Homo sapiens: one gene and its partner. The protein of the gene in region 1 interacts with the protein of each later gene in a biochemical or structural test. Each region holds a gene or a part of one and is shown in the gene's direction. Other genes may lie near its edges. The genes, in order: KIF5A and DTNB.

Region 1 (3,811 bases):
GGTTCACTGCAACCTCTGCCTCTCGGGTTCAAGTGATTCTCCTGCCTCAGCCTCCAGAGTAGCTGGGATTACAGGCGCATGCCACCACGCCTGGCTAATTTTTGTATTTTTGGTAGAAACGGGGTTTCACCATGTTGGCTAGGCTGACCTCTGGCGATCCGCCCGCCTCGGCCCCCTGAAGTGCTTGGATTACAGGCGTGAGCCACCGTGCCCGGCCTGTATATGTAATTATACATCTGATTTTTTTCATTCAGCATTATATTATGCACAATTTCCTACTTCATTAATAATTCTTCATAAAAGTATTTTTATTTTCATTTATTATTATTATTTTGCTTTGAGAGAAAGAGTCTTGCTTTGTTACTCGGGCTGAAGTGCAGTGGTGCAGTAATAGCTCACTGCAACCTCAAACTCCTGGGCTCGAGGGATCCCCCCCAACCTCAGCCTCTGAAAGAGCTGGGACTACAGGTGCACACCACCACGCCCAGCTAATTTTTTTTTTTTTTTTTTTTTGGTAGAGTTGGAGTCTCACTTTGTTGCCCAGGCTGGTCTCAAACTCCTGGCCTCAAGCGATCCTCCCGCCTTGGCCTTTCAATGCGCTGGGATTAAAGGCATGCACCACCAGGCTAGCTAATATTTTAAATTTTTTGTAGAGACAGGGTCTCACTATGTTGCCCAGGTTGGCCTTGAACTCCTGGCTTCAACCGATCTTCCTGTAGGATATGGGGTTTCTAACTCAAAGCTTATACTATCTGGATTTTTATCAGGATCCTGCCTCTACCCCCAAACTTCTTACGTCTAAACTGGAAGGAGTAGCTTCCCTTCACCTGTCTTTCCCTGTTGCCTCCAACAGGATGATGAAATCAACCAACAAAGCCAACTCATAGAGAAGCTCAAGCAGCAAATGCTGGACCAGGAAGAGGTAATAGGAGGGAGGGCAGGACATGAGAGGAAAGGGGTTCTGTTCATCACTGGAAGGCATGGAATAGACCTTTTTAAAATCAGATGGAAGAAGGCGCTTTCTGCTTGGGGATTAATCACTCCCCTAAACAGCAGAAGTCTGGGAACCTCACTGGGGCTTTTCTTTTCTTTTCCTTTTTTCTTTTCTTTTTTTTTTTTAGAGATGGAGTCTCAATTTGTTACCTAGGCTGGAATGCAGTGGGGCAATCTCAGCTCACTGCAGCCTCGATCTTCCAGGGTCAAGCAGTCCTCCTGCCTCAGCCCCCTAAGTAGCTGGGACTACAAGTGCACCACCACACATGGCTAATTTTTGTAGAGATGGAGTTTTGCCATGTTACCCAGGCTGGTCTCGAACTCCTGAGCTCAGGCAATGTGCCCACCTAGGCCTCCCAAAGTGCTGGGATTACAGGCGTGAGCCACTGCGCCCGGCTGGGGCTTTTCTTAAAGCACAAATTTTAAAGTCTGGGGGCTTCTTCATTCTTCATTCTGTTGCCCTATTTCTATGAAACCTAAAGCCCACTTCCTCTTAACTCTTTATTTTGGGTAGGGTGGGGGCTCAGCTTCCCAGACCCAAGGCCATAGAAATGGTCACTGGCAGTGATCTTTCCCACATGCCACTCCTCTCCCTTGAAGCTGCTGGTGTCCACCCGAGGAGACAACGAGAAGGTCCAGCGGGAGCTGAGCCACCTGCAATCAGAGAACGATGCCGCTAAGGATGAGGTGAAGGAAGTGCTGCAGGCCCTGGAGGAGCTGGCTGTGAACTATGACCAGAAGTCCCAGGAGGTGGAGGAGAAGAGCCAGCAGAACCAGCTTCTGGTGGATGAGCTGTCTCAGAAGGTGGTAAGTGGTGTGCCAATGGTCCAACAGCTCCCTGACCACAGAACATCTCCCATGTCGAGGGGACCTCTGCATCCTTCCAGGGCTGTATGGTGGCTGCACCTCTGCACTGCTGTTCAGTGCATTGTGAGTCCCTCCCCAACCCTGTCACTGCACTTTCCCCTCACAGTCCCTCTGTCTTTCAGACTCTTCTGCAGGGCCTGTGTTCTCTTCATAGCAGCCCTCAGGGTCTTGCATGAAGGGAGAGGCCTCTGCCTGGGCTGGGCAAGGGAGCAGGAGGATGGCAACAGGAATGACCTGAGGGGCTGTCCCCAGGCCACCATGCTGTCCCTGGAGTCTGAGTTGCAGCGGCTACAGGAGGTCAGTGGACACCAGCGAAAACGAATTGCTGAGGTGCTGAACGGGCTGATGAAGGATCTGAGCGAGTTCAGTGTCATTGTGGGCAACGGGGAGATTAAGCTGGTGAGTGGTGAGAGACAGCAGCCTTGTTCAGGCTGGGCACTAGTGGAAGACGCAAGATGAGCCATCCAGGCCTTCACAGATACTGAGAAAGGCAGCCAGAGAGCCAGGAAACATGCCTTTGAACTAGACCCAGGAAGACAGGTAGAGGCTTGTATAGACCCAATTGAAAAGATACATTCTAGGTTGGGCGCAGTGGCTCACCGCTGTAATCCCAGCACTTTGGGAGGCCGAGGCAGGCGGATCACTTGAGGTCAGGAGTTCGAGACCTGACCTCGCCAACATGGCGAAACCCTGTCTCTACTAAAAATACAAAAATTAGCCAGGCGTGGTGATGTGCACCTGTAATTCCAGCTACTCAGGAGACTGAGGCAGGAGAATCGCTTCAACCTGGGAGGTAGAGGTTGCAGTGAACTGAGATCACACCACTGCACTCTAGCCTGGGTTATAGAGTGAGACTCTGCCTTAAAAACAAAACAAAACAAAACTAAATTCTAACGGGTGCTGAATAAAGAAGCAATGGAGGCCAGGCATGGTGGTTCATGCCTGTAATCCCAACATTTTGGGAGGCTGAGACAGGCGGATCGCTTGAGCCCAGGAGTTCACGACCAGCCTGGGTGACATAGTGAAACCCTATCTCTACAAAAAATACAAACGATTAGCTGGGGGTGGTGGCACACACCTATAGTACCAGCTACTTGACAGGCTGAGGTGGGAGAATCACCTGAGTATGGGAGGTTGAGGCTGCAGTGAGACATGATTGAGCTACTGCAATCCAGCCTGGGTGACAGAGCCAGACCTTGTCTTAAAAAAAAAAAAAAAGAGGCTGTACATGGTGGCTCACGCCTGTAATCCCAGCACTTTGGGAGGACGAGGCGGGTGGATCACCTGAGGTCAGGAGTTCGAGACCAGCCTGTTCAACATGGAGAAACTCCGTGTCTACTAAAAATATAAAATTAGCCGGGTGTGGTGGCTCATGCCTGTAATCCCAGCTACTCACGTGGCTGAGGCAGGGGAATCGCTTGAACCTGGAGGCGGAGGTTGCAGTGAGCCGAGATTGCACCATTGCACTCCAGCCTGGGCAACAAGAGTGAAACTCCGTCTCAAAAAAAAAAAAAAAAAAATTTGGGAGGCCGAGGCGAGGTCAGGAGATTGAGACCATCCTGGCTAACACAGTGAAACCCTGTCTCTACTAAAAAAATACAAAAAATTAGCCAGGCATGGTGGCGGGCGCCTGTAGTCCCAGCTACTCAGGAGGCTGAGGCAGGAGAATGGCGTGAACCTGGGAGGCGGAGCTTGCAGTGAGCAGAGATGCGGCACTGCACTCCAGCCTGGGTGACAGAGGGAGACTCTGTCTCAAAAAAAAAAAAAAAAAGCAGCAGCAACAGAGCAGTGCTTGCAGTAGGAGTTAGAGGTGGGGCATAGGCACAGAGTTCAGAATGAAATATGCAAATCTGTGGATGTGAGAATAATCTGGGTGATCAAGGAGATCAAAAGAAAATCATGTTGCTTTATAAGATTTATTTGTAAGTGGGGGACTGTCAGAATTGGATTT
Region 2 (3,729 bases), on another chromosome or scaffold:
ATATGTCCCTGAAACTACAACGTAGCTCATACATGGGCATTTTTATAAGACTAAGTGTTTTTATGGGTGGACCTCCTGATTCTCTGCCATGAGCTAGGCCTGAGATTTTACAGACCTAGGACTAACTGCAGTCACCTGGACACCAGAGATCTGTAACTGTCAACCGTAAAGAGAGAGAGTATATTTGCTTCTTTGGGGTTGAAACCATACTGACGTAATATAAACAGAATTTGGTCAGCACCATCAGGCAAACATAGTCTGCTCGATAAGGAAACTGTGAGAGTCAAATGGAACTTTTGAAGAATCTAGACCAAGCTGAACTTCCCTGCCATATTCACCCCTGCCTCACGCCTCTCCCTGTTCACCCCTGGCTGGCTGGCTGCATCCTGGGGAATGCTTCTGCTCCATCGGGGTACCCTTCCTCCTCTGCATCTCCTCAAGAGAAGTGTAACCAAGACACATAGAAGAAGCACAGACTAACACACCTTCCCCCATAGTACATCATCTCCACCCTCCACAGCCTCATGTTATGCTCCTGTGTCCTTCACAGTCTCCCCTCCCATACCCTGCCATCCCGGTGTGGGGGCTGTAAATCCAGTTTGCATCCATAAAGAGCCCTGGTGCAAGGCTGGACAGCAATGGCCCTCAGAGAACAGAACAGGCTCAGGAGGGGCCAGGCAGTGCTCGAGCCTCGGGTGAGCAAGCGCAGGGCTTTTCAAAGCAGACCATCTGCAGGAGGGGGACCGCCCTCACTCAAGGCGCAGTCATGTTCCCTTGGGGAACTTTCAGAGCTGAGTGGGCTTTGCCCCCCTCATGTAACTGCTCCCTGGATTTAAGGAGTTTTGATTCCATTTTTTAATGACTTTCCTTCTCCTGAGAAGCATCTGTCTCCATGGCTGCCTCGGGTTGGCTACAGTAGTAGAAAGTATGACTCTACCCTGCTGTCATACCTGGGTGGGAAAAGTCAACAAACGAGTAACGGGAGAAGCAAGGAAGCCCCTGGGGTGGGTTGGTCAGGGAAGCCCCTTTGAGATAGTCTGGGGCATGAGAAGACCTGGCCGTGACCTCAGTGTGTTGTTTCTGCCCATGCTGCCACAGGTTAGCAGAGGAGCCGGACACAGAGGAAGCTCAGGTGAGTACAAAGAGTCCTCTGCCTCCCCACGGCCCCTCCCTCCTTCCTCAGCATCTTCCCTTCCCCTCCCTTCCTGCAGTCACAGGTCCCTAGCCAGGGCAGTCCTAACAGGTGAAGATGCAAGAGCCCAACTGTCCCTTCCCTTTGCCCACCCCAGCCATGTGCCCTCCTTGCCCTGTTTCTAGGCTGTGTCCTGTCTTGCACAGCACTGTCTGCAGGCCTGGTCCTTGGGCATGGCCTGGTGTCCTCTGTGTTGGGATGGCATTGGCAGACCCGACACTGCTGGCTGAAACAGGGTGTGCTGAGCAAGGCCACCTCCCTGGGGAGCACTGCCTCCCATGCTCCTTTCCCACAGCCACTGCCCACTTCCTTCCTGGGATCCAAACCACAGCCAGTGCGTCCCTGGATTCTGTCACCCAGCACTGCACCGAATCACAGTCCCTGACCCACAGACATGTGATTCATGCAGGATCACACTGACTACAGGGCTGACCAAGCCGCTTCCCATGGTGCCCGGCCAAGCTGCACCTTCTCACTTCCTGAAGAAGCAATGCAGAAAAGTACGGACTGCTCCAGTGGCAGATGCTCATTGCCTTTAGGAATTAGTCATTCCCATTTTCCAGCTCAACACCTTAATTCTTTCTAGTCCCAGCACCAAGATATCAGACTTCTCCATTTTAAAATCTTGTCTTCCCTCCCCTCCTCCCACCCCCCCACCTCTTATATTTAAAAATTAGGCATCTTCCTCGAATAAAGAAGTCAGGGCCCTAGCTGCACAATCCAGAAAAGGGGTTTTTTCAGACCCTCCCAAGTCGTGTCATCCTGGAATAGCCTCTGGCCCTCTCTGCCCAACCGCGCCAGGCCATTGAAGGCCTCTGCCCGCTCCCCCGGGGCCCCTGCAGCCTCGGCCTGCGCTGACTCTGGATTGTGCGAGCTGAGGAGAGGGCAGCACCTGGGCCACGCACATTCTCTCGCTGCCCTGGAAATCACAGCGCCCCAGGGGCTTGGAGAGAGGCTTCTCCCTAAACTCACTGTGCACATTCAGGCAAGGCCCTTTCCCAAGCAAGCCTAGGCCGTGGCAGCCGAGGAGGGAAATCAGGAACTGACTCGCCCTGCAGGAGCCTGCCAGAGCCCCTCTCTCCCCGGGGCAGAAGGAACTGGGGTGCAAGGGAACGTGGCAGAGCCATGTGCCCCCACCGCCTTGTTGCACATGGAGGAAACCAATGCCCCACACCAGAAGCTCCATGCCAGAAGCAGAATTGGAGCCGGGTCTTCTGCCTCCTAATCCTGCGCTCTCTGACCCACATCAGGGGTGATGAGAAACACCAACAGCCGAGAGTTAAACTAAGAGTATAAAACTTGGGTGCCGCGGATTCATGGATGCCCAGGCCTGCGCTCTGCTGGCCGGGGGCTGAGGCTTCCTCCCTTTCCTCTTAGTATTCATCGGCACACCTCAGTCCTCCCTGCCCTTCTCCTGGGCCACAATTCTCCCCAAGAAATCACCCCATTCAAACCTTGCATTGTGAACCCAATTCTTTCTTCCACGGAAACACTTCCTGACCCTTAGGAATGATGGCAGAGGACCCTAGGTACCACCCTTCAGCCCAACGCTTGAAAGGCGCCCAGCATCCTAGCAGCCCCTCCCTGCAGGGCCTCCTGTTCACAGTAGATGTTAGCAGCTTTTGTCCTGAACCCTCAACAGTGCCCGTGACTAACGGTGAGTGTGTCTTGCGCAGGCACAGAGGACGAGGAGCAAGCTGGCGCCGACATGGCGAAGGCAAGGTCTTCCCCCAGAGGCACATTCCTCTCCATCTTTCCACCGCACACCTGGACCAGGCTTGCAGGCTGCCAGACGTCACTCCACCCGCCAGGGAGAGGGGAGCCAGAGCCGGTGGGAAGCGGGGAGGGGCTGCGTGGCACAGCTAGTGGGCCTCCCCCTGCACAGCCCTGCATGTACTAGCACCTTCATCACTCCCCTCAGGGCATGGTCTCATCTCCGCATCAGGAATTCACCTGGAGGTTGAAAAGAGAAAAGAAAAAGCACCAAGCTCTTGTGTGTTTGTGACCTGATGAAACACTTCCTGGCGTCTGGCCAGCACGTGGGGTGCTCCTGAACGTGGGGGCACAAGTTTCCTTATCTTTGACCTTTAAAAACCAACAGGTTTCTTCCAGCGTGCAAAGAAAGCGTCAGGCCTTGCTCGGCTCTGTAGACATTCACACCCTGGCCACGGTGCTAAAAATAGTCTCACACTGGTTAGGCTTCCGCCCGCCCCGTGTGATGCCGCCGCCTGCAGCCCGGGAGGGAGGGGCGGAGACCCAGCCGCGCGCCGCAGCCGGGCTGAGCCTCCTCGGAGAGGGCGGGAGGGTCTCTGCGCCGCGGACTCCGTGGCCGCCAGGGGGCGCGCCGCCGGGGGCGCTGCTCGCAGCCTCTCGCCTTAGGGGTCGATTGGGCTCGGGCACACGTGATCAAGTCCCGTTCCCGGTGATTTTCATTTATTTTTTCCTCCTCCCTGGGCTCCAGGATGTTATTTTTAGCAGAAGAACTGCTATAAATATTTATAAAGGGCAGTGACTGTAATGAAGCGAGAAGCCCCACA

Evidence for each region.
Region 2: the proteins of KIF5A (region 1) and DTNB form a complex in vitro, tested with the Homo sapiens proteins (one study listed by BioGRID).

What each region holds. Positions count from the first base shown.
Region 1 is NC_000012.12:57,570,468-57,574,278, forward strand, and holds part of KIF5A (kinesin heavy chain isoform 5A), read left to right. Parts: intron 1-853; coding exon 854-922; intron 923-1,593; coding exon 1,594-1,800; intron 1,801-2,112; coding exon 2,113-2,259; intron 2,260-3,811. UniProt on the Homo sapiens protein: Microtubule-dependent motor required for slow axonal transport of neurofilament proteins (NFH, NFM and NFL). Can induce formation of neurite-like membrane protrusions in non-neuronal cells in a ZFYVE27-dependent manner.
Region 2 is NC_000002.12:25,376,693-25,380,421, reverse strand, and holds the end of DTNB (dystrobrevin beta), read left to right. Parts: intron 1-1,098; coding exon 1,099-1,103; coding exon of another isoform or gene 1,104-1,132; intron 1,133-2,868; coding exon of another isoform or gene 2,869-3,092; 3' UTR 3,093-3,179; downstream 3,180-3,729.